Linked DNA regions of Homo sapiens: region 2 is linked to region 1. The links come from fine-mapping of genetic effects on plasma protein levels. A gene starts in region 1. The other region holds a variant in brackets. All regions are shown on one strand. Distances are from middle to middle. Region 1 holds the start of ESD (esterase D). Region 2 overlaps ESD (esterase D).

Region 1 (8,345 bases):
CAATGGTTTACAAATGGGATATACTTTTCACAGCAAAGGTTATACAGAGCTTTTATATGCATATGCATTCTCAATAGAGATGTTTTCTTCTTTTGAGGTAAATGACTGTACACCCTGATGGGATACCACATCACCACTTAATTACCTTAATTGCCCATAATCTAATTATTTGCCACAGGCCACCTTAATACCTATTTTGCCATAAAGCTTGTTGGTACTTGGTCAAAACCATCTGCTGAAGTAAAAGTACTATGAAAGTTTTTTATCTTTTTAAATCAATAAACAAAGTTTTCAAGTGTAATTTCGAAGCATGAGATGTAGTCAACTCCTGAGTGAAGAAAATAAGAGTGGGGACTAGGTAAGTAGAGGAAGATGGATCTATCTGGCTCAGTTGTAAGTCGAACTTGTAACATGGGGAGAAAGAAGGGAAGAGATGAGGACTGAAGGACTACTACTAGGGTGACTAGAAAGGATGTATAAGAAAAGTGGGCTTATGAACGATGAAGTGACTGATATTCAGTAAGAAAAATATATATGGAAACTTACATAGTATATATCATGTCACTTATCTGGTAGATTTCATTTAGGCTCTAGAACAAATATATATTTAGGTTCTAGAACAGATTTTGTGGGAGAAATAGGGTGACAGAGTAGGGTGGAATACCAAAAAACCAAACAACACCCTTCCTCCTTCCCCTCCAAAAAACAACAACAACAACAACAACAACAAAAACAGAAAAACAATTTCACAGTGCCAGTGGGAGTTACACAATTTTTCCCAAATGTTAGTGAACATCAACATTCTTTGGAGAAGAAAGGGTCTCTCAGTGCATAATACATCCATTCCCCTAAAGGTCAAACCTTACTGTTCTTCCCTTTATTTTTTATTTTTTGGAGATGGGGTCTTGGCTGTGTGGCCCAGGTTGTAGTACAGTTGCATAATCATGACTCAGTGTAACCTAGAACTCCAAGCTTCAAGTGTTCTCCTACCTCAGCCTCCTGAGCAGCTAGGACTACAGGTGCGTACCACACTGGAATATTTTTTTTTTTAATTTTTTGTAGAGACAGGGCCCTTTACTTATTAAAGTTAAATGTCATCCACCTCCAGAAATCTGAGTTCTATTTTTATCCTTCTTCCCCTGTGTCTCAAGTTTTCCATAAATCTCTACATGTGTTTTTTTGTTCCCATTCTCTCAGATTCCTTGGATTTTGATGTTTCTTCATTTCCAGGATGTCCTATTCCACTGGCTCTTAACAACCTAGACAGGTGTTCCCAAAACCAACAATCTACAGTTCCAATAACTGCTGTTGACCACCACTGTGTTGTTCAAATCCTCTTCTCAGTGAAAACTCAGGATCTGGCTTCTTCCCTTTCACTCTGTCTCCTCCCACCTCCCTTTTCTTTTTTCTTCACACTCTTTCCCTAAACCTCATTCCCTAAATTTCAACTACATTTTCTGGGTGAAATAATCTAAATCTGCATCTCTATAACCAATCTTTCTCAAGCATTAGTACCCATAATGACATTTCTTGCTGGACTCTTCTACCAAGACATGTCACCAGCTATTAAAACTTACCACACCTAAAATTAAGCTTCTGCATCTCACCTTCAAACCATTCCTCTTTTCATTGCCTCTCTTTTTCAGACTCATGCCTGTCTTGCCTAATCTACATTTGAGATGCCTCAAAGTTACCTTCTTTTTGAATTCCCACTGCCATCATCCTAATTATATATAAGAAATTAAAACTTAGCCTCTTCCTTTCTTCCTAATACATCCCACTACGATCAATCCTGCATGAAAGCCTAGGGTTTTAATCCACTTAATTTACTGGTCAACGGATCCCTACCAACAGCTCATCTGCAGCCTAATACGGCCTACGTGGAATTGTTAGTCATTTTTATTTAGTATTTTAAAAACTGTGATAAAAACACATACATAATATTTACTATCTTAACCATTCCTAAGTGTGTATTTCAGTAGTGTTAAGTATCCATTAGTCATATGTAAAAACGCAGTTCGCCAGCTCACAATAATGAGCAGATGAGAACTGCCTCATCACCCCCTGGCTGCTGCAGGTGGAGACTACTAATCCCTTTCGCTGTTAGGCCAGTCGCTGAGAACCAGAAAGTCACTGAAATGGAAGACCATGTTAATTGTACAATTTTCTTCAAGTTTAATGCCATTAAAATTTCATAAAATTAAAACCATGCAGGATCACTGAAAAAATAGATGAATAAAACTCCATATAAACTTCAGTCACACTCTACCTGTGTGCAAACACAGTCTTTTTTTTCTTCTTTTTTTTTTTTTTGAGACAGGGTCAAACTCTGTGGCCCAGATTGGAGTGCAGTGGCCTGATCTCGGCTCACTGCAATCATCTCGGCCCCCGGGCTCAGGTGATCCTCCCGCCTCAGCCTCTGGAGTAGTTGGGACCACAGGTGGCACCACCATGCCCAGGTAATTTTTTGTAGAGGAGGTTTTGCCATGCTGCCTAGGCTGGGTCTCTTTTCCTTCATAAAAATTCACATGGCTTGCCTAGGTAAGGATTTCTATTAAACTCTGGGGAAAATTTTTTAAAAAAAATATAGCATCTATAAACGCCAAACACCTTCACATGGCTCTAAATATGGTCTATAATTTGGTCCCAGATTATTTTTCTGGTCTCACTCCCTATTTTGTTAGTTAAACTCAACTATGCATAATTCTAGGATGGCCTGGATGTTGCTATCGGGTGGCTTTACTCAATGCCACGGTACAATGGTTTCAGAGCAGGTTTTGGGGCCAGACCCTCCGGGTTCAAACCCTGACTTCACCACTTATTACTACATGACACTGGGCAAGCTAATCTATGCCTCATTTGCCCATCTGCAAAATGGGTATACAGTAATATATATCAATTTGATAGGGTTGCTCTGGGAATTAAATGAGTTAATTCACGTAGTGCTTAAAATGCTGCTTCTACCACACACACAAACATGAGCTATTATTTTTCCTGCAACCTGAATGCCCTCTCCTTCCAGGTGCGCTCAATCCCATTTCCCTAATGACCCCATCAGAAATGACTTCCAGTCCCCCACAGCGCTCTGAGAGCATTTTACGACCCGAACAGATTTTGTCAAACTCCAAAGACACGTGCTCCCCTCGGCACCATCAGGTGAGTGCTCCTGACCGCGCCATTGGCTCGTGCCCCGACGCGGACGCTGCCTAGAGCAGCAGGTCCACACTCCCCCGAACCAGGCGCCGGCGGCCGCTAGTAACGCGTTGAGGCCAGCTCCCTCCTTAAAATGCGTACACATCTACTTCACATTTTCGCGCGGTGGCTGCGGGTCTAGGAAAGTCTTTCTGAACAGGAAAAAGCTGTACAAATGTAGCGGGCAGTAGGTAAACGGGCGCTCGCCCCGGGTTACACTAGGTTGGAGGCTCAGAGAAGGAAAAGGGATTAGAGGCGAGGCTCCGGGTCACGGGAAAAGGTCCTTGGCCTCCTGTCATGGATGGTGGCGCCCAAGGCCCAGGGTCGCCGTCTCTGCGCTCGTGCCTGCGGATACCTGCACCGCAGGACTCGGCGTCCGCCCCGATCACGCCTAGCCGTGCCGCAGCCGCAGGAAGGCTGACAACGTCCAGGCCTCTACCCGAACCCAGTCTTACCTACGGTGGCGGAGTGACCAGAAGAAGCGGGCCGAAGTAAAAGGCGGGGCTCAAGATGGCCGCCGGGGCCTCGCCTCAGCCCCGCCCATATGATGCCCCGCCCCTCCGGTCCCACTCACTCTCGCTTTTAACTCCGAGAACCCGCTCTTCTCCAGTTCAGTCTCCATGGCCCCGCCGCCTTTGCACATTGCACTTCCCGGCAGCCTCCGCGTGGGCGCCCCCTCCAACTCCTGCCTTCGCCCGCGTTTCTGCTCTGTGTGGTTACTAGGACCAACGAGGAGGGCGTTAGGTTAGTCCCTGTCACCTTGTCGGGGATCAGTCTGCTGTGCGTGCTCAGACTCTTCCCAGAGCCAGCAGCAAGAACCCGAGGCATTAATAAACTTGAGATGTAGCTTCGCTTAACTCGTGCAGAGGGTTTCCGTGTCACTTATGTAGAAACTAGGGCCTAATTTCAACTCCCTCAACTCCTCTGTCCCAAGACTATCCACGTCACCTACTTGGTAGCTTGAGTTAAACAAGAAACCTTTGAAATCTCCAGTGGCCGACACGCAGTGGGAACTCCATCAGTTTTCTGTTTTCTCCCTTCTTCCCTCAATAAAAATTAAGTTGAACTGACTAAGATTTGCTAGTTGATAATTTACAGCAAATCTTTCCTTTTGGTCTCTCTGATTTAAGCAAACTGTTGAGTGTACTTTGCCTCTTGAGAAATTAAATCTGATTACAACAGAGCTAAGTATTTTTCAGCAACGGTTAGACTGACATTGTAAATACACAATCTGATAGTTGGGGCTGGCCTCATGGGCCTGCAACCTGTGCTATTACCCGGCCCCCAGAACAGAAGGACGCTACATTTTCTCTCAGTAAGTGTTGAACCAGGGCCCCACGTTTGTGTCTGGAATTGGGCCCTGCAAATTGTGTAGCTATGGGAGCTGACTTAAGTATGGATGAGCTGCCACACAAGAGATTACCTGCCAGAATCTATTGTGTGGCTCAGGCCCATTTTGCCATAGTGATCTTTGGACTAAATTAACCTGTGGACTGAACCTGTGGATCAATTGGAACTTAGACTGAAAATAATGTTTCATCAAAATAATGTTTTTATTTTGAGAAAGCATTGAAGTAAATTGTTTTAAACTTTCTTTTTACTATCTTTAAGTATAAATCATTGAAAAGGGGATTTTCTTCAGTTTCAAAACTGAAACAGAATAAATACCTAAATTGCAAGTTCTTTATAACTGATGTTTGAACAAAGAGAAATAATTGATTAAATGATATATTTGCCTAATAAGTGGACTGCTGTGAGGTGCAGACTAGCCAAAGAACTGTAAGTGTGAAGTTCTTTACTAAAGGGTTCTTGTGTGAATACAATGTGAGAATAAGCAGAACTAAAATTTCTTTTACCCAGCATAAATAAAATGTTAATAGATCCACAAAAGTCGATTGCTTAAAAATATTAAGAATATATATAATTATCATTATTATTTGGACATGGAAGCAAAGAAGGCTGAAATCAGAAATTAAGGTTGACATTTTAAAAAATGGCACTACCAATAAAAATGGATGAATATTAAGTACACAAAGAAATAGTCCAAAAATTATGTGTAAATGTGTGGCTGAGAGGATATAGGACTCTTGGTTTGAACTAAAATGAGTAGGAATATAATCTTAAGGAGGCAATAAAGGGATGCAATAAAAATGAGAAAAAGTCAAATATACTTGAAGCCTGTAAGAAAAGAGATTGTTTTAGTCAGTTCCAGCTTAACAGAAATTTATTCCTCACCATTCTAAAAGTCTGGGAAGTCCAAGATCAAGGTGCTGATGAAATCTGTTCCTGCTGAGAGCCCTTTTCCTCGTTTGCAGAGGAATACCTTCTTGCTGTAGTCTCACTTGGTGGGTGGGGTGAGGAGAGCTCTGGTTCCTTCATCTTATTGTAAGGGCACTAGTCCCATTCACATGGACTCCACCATCATGGTGTAATTATCTTCCAAAGTCTCCATCTCCAAATACCATCACGTTAAGGATTTAGGGTTCAATGTTTGAATTCTGGGGAACACAAACATTCAATCCATAGCAAAGATAGTTTTAGAGAGACTAGAAAAGACACCATACATAGAAAATAATATAATCTCTTGGGTATCAAATATGCTACTTGAGAAGTGTCCTTGTGGCTTTTCCACAGACTAGAACAGGGTTTCTCAACCTCGGCACTGTTGACATTTGGGGCCAGATGATTCTTTGTCGTGGAGGCCTACCCTGTGCATTGTAGGATGTTTCGTAACATCCCTGGCCTCCACTAGCTAGATGCCAGTGGTACCCCTAACAAGCTTAGATACCCAAAACGTCTCTAGACATTGCCAAATGTCCATGGAAGGAGGGGTTGGTGTAGAGGAGGGCTGCAAAATTGCCCCTAGTTAAGAACCACTGGCCTAGATAAACATTTTTCAAAATTCCCTTTATTTTGATTCTATTCTTATCTAGTGACATTTTGGAAAATAATAGGCTCCATTGTTATTTAATAAATCAGAACTTAGGTTAAAAATGCTTTAGTCTCTGGTGAGTGTAGCTGAGATGATACATTTTCCCAAAGACTTACCATCTCTGAGCATGATACTCACCTTACAGAATTGAGTTTCTGAATGTGTACTCTGAGGACCAGACTTTGGATCATGGGAACTGAACCAAGTACCGGAAACTTATAGCCCTGTGCCACTGTTCCATCTTGACTTTGTTATCTTAAGTTCTAACTGCAGAGTACAATACAACAAGTACAGACAAGCCTTTCAGTCTCACATTCATATTAGCAAATGTCCAAATTTCACATATTTCAATTTTATTTATTTATTTATTTAAGATAGGGTCTTACTCTGTCACCCAGGCTGGAGTGCAATGGCGCAATCATAGTTCATTACAACCTCAAACTCCTGGGCTCAAGTGATCCTACTGCCTCAGCCTCCTGAGTAGCTGGCACTACAGGCGTGTGCTAGCATGCCCAGCTAATTTTTGTATTTTTAGTAGAAATGGGATCTTGCTATGTTGCCCAGGCTGGTCTTGAACTCTTGAGCTCAAGTGATCCTCCCACTTCAGCCTCCCAAAGTGCTGGGATTATAGGCATGAGCCGTTGCACCCAGCTGCATCTGGCCTCAATTCCATTTACTTTTTTTTTTTAATTCTTAAATCCTAAAAGCTATATTTCTTTTTCATCACACATTCAAAAAAATCAAGAGTTAGTGTGTGATTGTACAGAGCTAGACTTTTGTGTTAGCCATTATTGTTATTTTTGTTAGCATGAGAACTAAAACTATAGATTTTTTCCTGTTCAAAGTGACTCCTATTCTTTTATCACCTTTTGCTCAATTACAGTACTGTTAAGTTTCTTAACATTCTACATATTTGTTGAGCCACAGTTTGTCAGTTTATTCATAATTTTTAAAGTTCCATTGATAGCTTATTAGAAACAAAATGAACTCTGGCTATCTGTTAATCATTGGCATGTATGAAAACTGACAAAAGGCCAGTTCACTAACTGTTTTGGTTAATGCTTATAAATCTCCTTTGGTGTAAGATTAGTATTTTGCTAGTGAGACTACCTATGCTTTCATGATCCTTTTCTCAATAATGCCAACTATTTCTTTAGGTCATTTCTAAAATGCCTCCTAGTCACTTACACATTCCCCAGCATAGCTTAAACATGCTTCTATAATTATTTGTAAACATGGAGAGTGAAGTAAAATAAACTATTTCATAGACAATGAGGCAACTAAAAAATTCTGAGATTACCATTATAACCATGGCTGGGATTTTGCTAAAGGAAACTAAGAATTTAGAAGAAAATTGGGGTTTTATGTATCCTCCAAAAGTCAGTAGCTCTAGATATTATATCATTATCTTTTTAGGCTGAGAACTAGGACAGCTTCCTTGGTTATGAAGAATCAGCTGTTAGGTAGAAATCCCCGCAGATATGCCATCTTGGCCTTATTGCAAGGACCATTATATCCACAAGTCACCCCAAATTTCCCTTTCTGTTTGCCTCCCTATATGAAAACAATTTAGAAATTCCATTTTCTTTTTCCCATGTCCTCCCTCCAGCTCTCTCTCTCAATAGACAGATAAATGGATCTATCTATCTATCTATCTATCTATCTATCTATCTATCTATCTATCTACAGTCATGAGTTGCTTTATGACAGGGATGTGTTCTGAGAAATGCATTGATAGCTGATTCTGTCACTATGGGAATATCACAGGGTATACTTACACAAACCTAGATGGTATAGCCTTCTACCCACCTAGGCTACATGGTATAGTCTGTTGCTCCTAGGCTATAAACCTGTACAGCATGTTACTGTACTAAATACTCTTGGCAACTGTTACACAATGGTGTTTGTGTATCTAAACACAGCTAAATACAGAAAAGGTAGAGTAAACATGCAGTATTACAATCTTATGGGACCACTGTAGTGTATATAATAAGTTATTGACCAAAACATTGTAATGCAGCCCATGGCTGCATCTGTACACACACATGCTCAAAATATTACTGTTAAGAAACACTTGCTATGTGCCAGGCACTATGAATGAAGATGACATTATTACCAAGTTATCCCTCCAGGTTCATGAGCTACAGCTCCCTCATAATTCCATCCTATGCTGAAGCTGTATCAAGCTACTTCCCTCCTAATTATAATCTAAACACCCCAT
Region 2 (8,345 bases), 26 kb before region 1:
GCTGGTCTCAAACTCCTGACCTCAAGTGGTCCACCCACCTCGGCCTGCCAAAGTGCTGGGATAACAGATGTGAGCCACCACGCCTGGCCTACAGCCACTTTTTGCAGCAACTTTTCACATCACCTTCACTTCTAAGTGGTTTGAGATACAATATTACTTGAATTGATAAACGATGTAGCCACTGGAAATTGTATCCCCCAAGATAAGTATTCTTTGCAATAACATCAGGATTTTTAAATTCTTCATGCAGTAGTATATTTATGATCTTCACAGCATAACTACTTAATATACTTTTAATGTAAACCTTATTAAAGTATAACACATATTAAAAAGTTTATAAATCCTAAGTGTATGGCCTGATGAATTTTCAGTGAACATGCTCATGTACCAAGCACCTGGATGAAGATAGCATCACCAGTACTCTCTCCTGCCATGCTCCAATCACCTCTCCCTCAGAATGCCCCCCACCACCCCCTTCCATTGCCTTGCTATGTGTAACACCTCCTGTCTTCAATACTATGCATATAAAATGGTACCAAGTTATTATATAGCACATAATTTGGTGTCAGGATTCTTTCTTCCAGATTATGATTGAGACCCCATCCATGTTGCTGCATCCAGTTATAGTGTGTTTATTTTTATTCATGTAGAATATTTCATTGTATGAATATGCTCCAATTTTACTAATTCTGTTATAGATGGATTCAGGTTATTTCTAGATTTTGGCCATTGTAAATGGTGCTGCTGTAAACATTCTCATGTAGCCATAATGTTCCTGTTAAGTACAGAAACATGCATTGAAAGGCTATAGGAGACGTGCTAAGTAAGGTCTGAGGCCTCATCAGACCTTACCAGTTTGCTAAGGTTGAACTAGACCTTAGCAGATCCTGCCAGATTGCACCTTATTAGCAGTATAATTCAGGTCGCCATGTTTCCTTGTCAACACCTGGGATTTTCCATTGTCTGAACTTTAGCCATTCAGGTGGGTGTGTAGGTTCATTGCATTGTAGTTTTTATTCGTATTTCCCCAGTCTTACTAAGCACATTTTCAGGCATTCATTAGCCATATTTGTCCTATTTTGTTAAGTACAAATTTTTTGCCAAATTTTATGTTTTTAAGAATTTGTGAGAGTTCTTCAGGCATTCTAGATACAAGTTATTTGTCAGATATATGTGTTGCAAGCATCTCCATCTACTTTGTGGCTTGTCCTTTTACTCTTCATGGTGGTGGCTTTACAGTATTACGTTTCTTCAAGAACATAATCTTCACAAGGGTCTTACATTGAACATAATCCAGGAAATGTCAGATTCCTTTACCTCCTTTTATACCTGATTGTCAGGTGACTTCTAGAAACACCCTAAACAAGCATTGGGAGTTAATGTTTAGGTTATGTATTGTTAACTATGTCACTGAGATGGAACCTTACAATATGAGAGACATTAAGATTGAACTCTTTCTAGTTGGGGAAACTCATGTTACATTTAGGCATTGATAAGGACTCATCCCTCCCCAGGCCAGCATTTGTGGCACAAAAAAGCAAGCTCAAATGTATTGGTTTATTATCCTCAACAGTCATTTCTGTTTTAACTAAAGGTCTTTGTCTTTACTAACATTAGCTGTTCATCAGCAATTACTTAATGAATATTTAAATGTTTTGCATTTACGTGTAAAAAAGCAAAGCAACTATTTTCTAACAATGATACACTAACTAACTTAGCTGTTTGTTACAGTCCCCTGTTATTCAAATACTAATCTAGGTGTTGCTATGAAGGAATTTTGCAGATAAAGTCCCTAATCAACTGACTTTAAAGAGGAGAGACAATCCAGTGGACCTCACTTAATCAGAAGGCCTTAAAAGCAAGACTGAGGCCTCACCAGGAGAGAAGAAATTCCTCCTGTGTACAACAGCTTGAGCCCATGCCCAGAGTCCGTCCTGCTTGTGCCTGTCCCTTCCTGACTGCTGCTCTATGGATTTTGGACTTGCTTAGCCAGCCCTCATAATCAGGTATGCCAATTCCTTGTTTTTTTTTTTTTTTTTATATATATATATTTATTATACTTTTAAGTTCTAGGGTACATGTGCACAACGCGCAGGTTTGTTACATATGTATACATGTACCATGTTGGTGTGCTGCACCCATTAACTCGTCATTTAGCATTAGGTATGTCTCCTAATGCTATCCCTCCCCCCTCCCCCCTCCCCCCACCCCACAACAGGCCTCAGTGTGTGATGTTCCCCTTCCTGTGTCCAAGTGTTCCCATTGTTCAATTCCCACCTGTGAGTGAGAACATGCGGTGTTTGGTTTTTTGTCCTTGAGATAGTTTGCCGAGAATGACGGTTTCCAGCTTCATCCATGTCCCTACAAAGGACATGAACTCATCCTTTTTTATGACTGCATAGTATTCCATAGTGTATATGTGCCACATTTTCTTAATCCAGGTATGCCAATTCCTCGTTTTTTAAAAAAAATCTTAATGTATATATCTCCTACTAGTTTTGCTTCCCTGGTTTAAACCTCAACCTCAATGATCTTAGGGACAATTGTTTTTCTTCACAAATAAATTACCAGCATGTAAAACGTTCATGAATGATCTTATTAGAAGACACAAGACTGTTTAAATGAGAACCATTCTGTGTACAGCTCATTCAAGGGCTCAACCTTGACTACTGATGTTTAAATAATACTAATTTTATAACTTTAGGAACTTAATGTCATTTTCTTCAGTTACCATAATATGCATTCCTACTGAATGTTTAAAATTTATTTTTTAACAGAAAAAAATATATTTTTAAAGCAGCCAGGTTTTACTGGCTTCTATCATGTTTTACTGGCTTTTATCACATTTCAAAAAGTTTGTCTATTAAAAGTTCTTAAAGGAAAACAATTGGGTATTTACAGAGATATTACTTTTCTTGGTGAGCTCACCAAGTTAAATCTCTGCTTGCAACTATGGGAAAATATTCATGTTTACAGTAACATATGAAACTAATACGTTTCCTTATTTAGCCATTTTCAGATTGAATCTTATTTAATTCTTGAGAACCTTAATACACCCAAAAACCAATGTTCACAAATATATTAGACTCAATAGGTAAGAAAAGAAAATCTGTCTTCTAATATCCCACAAATAGCTGTGTAACGATGGGGAATTCATTTAACCTTTCTGAGCCTACCTCTTTATTCTGTAGCTAACAGTTATTAAATATCCACTAGAAATCAAGTGGATATTTGCTTTCTAGACACTTGCTAGACACTAGAGATACAACAATGAACATGACAAAGACAGTCCAATGTCTTCAGAGGCTTAAAGTCTGGAAAGGTGAGGAGTCTGGGCTAAATTACTTTTAAGTCTTCTGTTCCAGAGTTGCTACTCTATACTTCAAATAGGATTACATTCATATTCTATGACCTGGGATTAATACAAGAATTTCCAAACGACACTGAAAAAGCTATAGAGCATTAAAGATTTCCTATGTGAACACTTGTAAAATAACTTTTAAAATCAGAAGTAGGTTTTATATCTTTATTCAGAGGTGATTCAACTATAGAATAAAGCCCTTTTAGCACTATAAAATCCAATGTTTTGAATTTTTTTTTTTTTTGCTCAGCAATACAGTTGCATTTTACAACTTTTATAATCCTGAAGAGATTCTCTTATTTGGAGTTTTTTCATGCATTCAGGTATTTAGCATGATGTCTGATGTGGTCAGTAATAAAGGTTGCAATGAAGTAGTAGCTATGATCATAA[C/T]CCTAGAAGATAAAGAGATGATAAGACATTTATCTACCATTCAGGAACATCAGTATTAGGAACATTAAATATATCTCTAAGGTCGTTTAATTTGCTTACAAATAGTCATAACATTAAGGAAGTATGAGGAAGGTTTATAATAAAATCAAGGTTGTCATCCTTGTACTTTAACATTTTCACTGTACATTAAAAGAGCAGCAAAAATGTGAAGGAAAACTAAACATTCTGCCTAGCTTCTAAACATAGCCTAACTTCTAAATGCTGCCATTAATATGTAAAGAGTGGAAGTAACACATTAATTAAATATGCAGAGTAGACATGTCATATCAACACTGTAGAGTGCATTAAATATGCAGAGTAGACACTGTCATTGAAAATGACACTATCAATTGACAGTGTCAGTTGATATGACACTGTCATATCAACCAAGATGAAAAGAATCAGGATTTAGAGATCTTAGAAACATGGGCAAGACATTTCAATTCACAAATGCAGCACATCAGTAAGACAGTGACTATTAAAACACAAAATAAGCACACAAACAATATAGAAAAAGAACATAAAAATGCCCAAATGTTCTATCATTGTTGGGAAGTCAAACACAGCCATCATAAATCCTGTTAACAATTCCTCCTACACAGTAAAAGCATGTTGTATCTTTATGTGAGGGGAAATATGTCATTAAGGCCTGACATCCCTTAGCAAATTAGGTAAAAAGTCAGTAATCCTTTGGAAAACTAACATGAAACAGAGAAAAATGCAATGTGCTAAGCAGTTAAGTTGAAAGAGATTTCTATCTATCCAGTCATTTAAAACCATTGTTGTAGGTAAATGGAGAAATAATCCCTTTCTGCTGACTCTGACACTTCTTCTGAATATAAAAAATAGTCTTCCAAAAAAAAAATAATTACAATAAGGTATTAACGCATTTTCCTTCTTTTTTTGTTGTTCAACTTTTAAGTTCAGGAGTACATGTGCTGGATATGCAGTTACATAAGTAAACGTGTGCCATGGTGGTTTGCTGCTCAGATCAAGCCATCACCTAGGTATTAAGCCGAGCATCCATCAGCTGTTCTTCCTGATGCTTTCCCCAACTCCCATCGCCCTTTGGCAGGCCCCAGTGTGGGTTGTTCCCCTCCATATATCCATGTGTTCTCACCATTCAGCTCCTGCTTATAAGTGAGAGCATGTGGTGTTTGGTCTTTTTTTTTTTTGAGACGGAGTCTCACTCTGTCACCCATGCTGGAGTGCATGATCTTGGCTCACTGCAACCTCCACATCCCGGGTTCAAGCGATTCTCCTGCCTCAGCCTCCCGACTAGCTGGGACTACAGGTGCATGCCACCATGCCCAGCTAATTTTTTGTATTTTTAGTAGAGACGGGGTTTCGCCATGTTAGCCAGGATGGTCTCGATCTCCTGACCTTGTGATCCGTCCACCTTAGCCTCCCAAAGTGCTGGGATTACAGGCGTGAGCCACTGCGCCTGGCCTGGTGTTTGGTTTTCTATTCCTGCATTAGTTTGTTGAGGATAATGGCTTCCAACTCCATCCATGTCCCTGCAAAGGACATGATCTCATTCCTTTTTATGGCTGTACAGTATTCCATGGTGCATATGTACCACATTTTCTTTATTTAGTCTATCACCGATGGGTACTTGGGTTGATTCCATGTCTTTGCTATTGAATAGTATTGAATAGTACTGTAGTGAACATATGTGTGCTTGTATCTTTATAACAGAATGATTTATATTCCTTTGGGTATACACCTAGTAATAGGATTGCTGGGTCAAATGGCATTTCTGCCTCTAGGTCTGCGGAATCACCACACTATCTTCTACAATGGTTAAACTAATTTACACTCCAGGTGGGAAGAACTTTCTAAGGGTATCAAACACCAGATAATTTATCCCTATCTACAATTAAAATACAAGGTTGAATAAACCGAAAGAAATGAAAGTCTAACAAAGATTTTGTTTTTCCCATTTTGAACTAGTGAATGGTCACTGATGGGAAAAGATGGGAATTTTTCTAAGCACCTAAGAAATAAAAATAGAGCTAATAAAAATATCACTGACGCTTCAGAGAACAAGGAAATCCCCAAGGTTTTGATGAATCAGTAAATGTTCTCAATCTCTCCCTTCCAGAGAGGTATTAAATGTTTATCTTGGGAACAGCTGTTAATAAAAAGTTCTAGTTTAAGGTCAAGGTAACTTAAGTCTTCTAAAGCAATCTGTCTTCTATCATGGAAGTGAATGTGACAGGAATGTTGTCAAGATTAAAGCTGAGCCTCGGAATTACTTGGTGTCATGTCTCTCAATGATTAGACTAGTCCCAGCTGGCTAGTTGAATTTAGAGCTAAATTACAGTTTCCTATATAAAGAAAGAAATGTAAAGAAAAACATTTTCCATCCATATAATTCTTGAATTGTTAAGAAGTTAAACAGGCCTGGAGTTTTAGGCCACCAAACCTGTAAAATGTACCAAGTATTATCTGCCATTTTTCACAGATCAAAAGATGGATCTGATAGAAAATGGGTACAGATGCAGGGAAACAGATATCTCAAAAGACTTGTGTGACCAAGTTCCAATGTGACTGAGTATGCCATATTTTTATCCTTAGTTTCTTGTGTGTTAAGAGCCATCAGACACATATGAATAGCCATCATTATTATTAGAGAAGTCCCAAGGTAAACCCAGGAATATATTGCAAGACAAGACATCTAAAATCCAAAACAAATGACCATAAGTTCCATAATGATAAAGATTCACCTATATGAGAAAGAAGAAAATGCCTGCCATTGAGGGCCCAAGAATTTTAAAAAATGTCAACAAAAAGGCAATAGAATACATTTGAACAATTGGTATCCTGCTGAAGTTACACAATTCGAGCTAATTGTATCATCCCTGACGAGGGTTTCTATTTATCAGTCTTATTAAATGGGGATGGCTTCTTTAATTAAATTCTTTGATGAATGAGTTGGTATGATATGTTAAGCAGCTTGTGCAAATGCCTATGTTTAGTGACACTTGAAGGGGACTTTTCTCCTCTACCTCACACTTTAAATGGAAAATCCTTGGTAGCAAAACTCTTGACTCCTGGAGTATAAAAATAAATGAACACCTTTCATTCTTTCATTCTTCACTCAGCTCTCAAAAAGGGAGCAGTGCTCCAGCAGCTATGATGGATGTTTATCCTAACAGGCAGTGTTTTCTTATATATTTTCCAGACCCAATTAGAAAAGCTTGGATAAGAATCCCCAGGTTATTAAATCTCTTCAGTGTATAAGGAGGAAGACTTTGCACTGTATTCATTTAACAAGTATTGAGAGTCTCTGTGCTAGATACCTATGCTAAATAAGCATGGGATACAGAGATGAATGAGAGAGCTCTACATTTCTGGGATTCTCTGCCATGTTCTTACTCTTCTCTAGCAGGCAGATGCAGAGGCTAAAACAGCCTCTCAATCTTCAAAAAGGTCCTGAGACTTAAGGAGGTAGTATAGCCTCTCCTTCTATTCCACAAAAAGAGATTACTATTTCTGGAAACTTCTTCACAGTATTAGGTCACTAAATTTTTTTTTCTCACTGTGTAACTCCAATAACTAAAGATAAGACATACTAGGCCCTTCTTTTTCAGACTAAGATTTGATCTCTGTACACTAGATATCAGAATTCTGCTACCTAGTATTTTTTTTTCAATTTAGATTCCCTGAAGCCAAAATAGAAAAAGAAAAAATTATATAAAATAATAACCAAATAAATATCCCCGATGCACTAACCCCTCTCTCTAAAAAATTTTTTTTGACATTCGACAGAGTATAAATATAAATTGTGAGCATTTAACACCATTAAAAAGAGGTAAAAGAATGAAGTTGAGTAAATCATGTGCATGATTGTAATTATTTTCTTTATTCTTTCTCAGATCGTTTATTTATATATATCCCCTATTATTTTCAGCTTATTTTTTACAGCTTCTATCCCACAAGGAAATACAGTTATACTATACTTGTAATCAAATGATAAAGCAGGTGATAAAACTCGCAGACCCAGGGTAATCTTGGGTCAAAGCTGGCAAGAAAATCTGAAAGCAGACTCTCTGGAGCCACTACTTAGGCATGCTCATTCAGTTGTTGATTCAATTACAACGAATCTCAACGAAATCCGCTTCAAGCTATGTAGTCCACTCTTAACCCGACCATGCTGGAAGTAAAGTGAATAGAAAATTGCACCTGAGCTCAACATTGTGACTCTGGTGCTTTGAATACTTTCTTACTTTTTTAGAAGAATTGAATGGTTTGTCTTGACTCCTCATTAAGTATAGCCAACTATGTGTTCTAGTTGCTTGGGATACAGGCATTTTAGAAACAAATAAGTGGACTTATTTTTCCCTCCAGGAATGTCATCATGTTCTAACTGTGCTGTTTTTATAACAAACTTGAGATTTTCAGACTTTGTTGGCAGGCAGAATCATTGTAGAAACAACAGAAATTTTGGGCCCAGTCTTTGGGGAAGCAAATGAGGTATCCAACATGGGTAGTGCCAAGAAATTAAGGTCATTTGGAAAAAACATGGTTTGGTACGCACTTATAGCTATAG

What was found. PIP is the posterior inclusion probability: the model's chance that the variant is causal. Protein levels are from the aptamer-based SomaScan assay of Sun 2018.
Region 2: its variant is fine-mapped to the plasma level of the ESD protein (Sun 2018, PIP 0.95). The variant lies in the coding sequence of ESD. If it changes the protein, the assay may bind it differently, which can mimic a change of level.

What each region holds. Positions count from the first base shown.
Region 1 is chr13:46,793,458-46,801,802 of GRCh38, forward strand. It overlaps ESD (esterase D), which reads right to left and starts at 3,704. Exons shown (of 10, transcript NM_001984.2): 1 at 3,648-3,704. RefSeq lists enhancers at 2,839-3,440, 3,572-3,621 and a silencer at 3,212-3,261.
Region 2 is chr13:46,767,744-46,776,088 of GRCh38, forward strand. ESD (esterase D) reads right to left here. Exons shown (of 10, transcript NM_001984.2): 10 at 3,513-3,753. The coding sequence ends at 3,673. Among named protein-coding and RNA genes, the nearest start is that of ESD, 25 kb to the right of the region's middle. The variant C/T (reference allele first, on the strand shown) is at 3,752.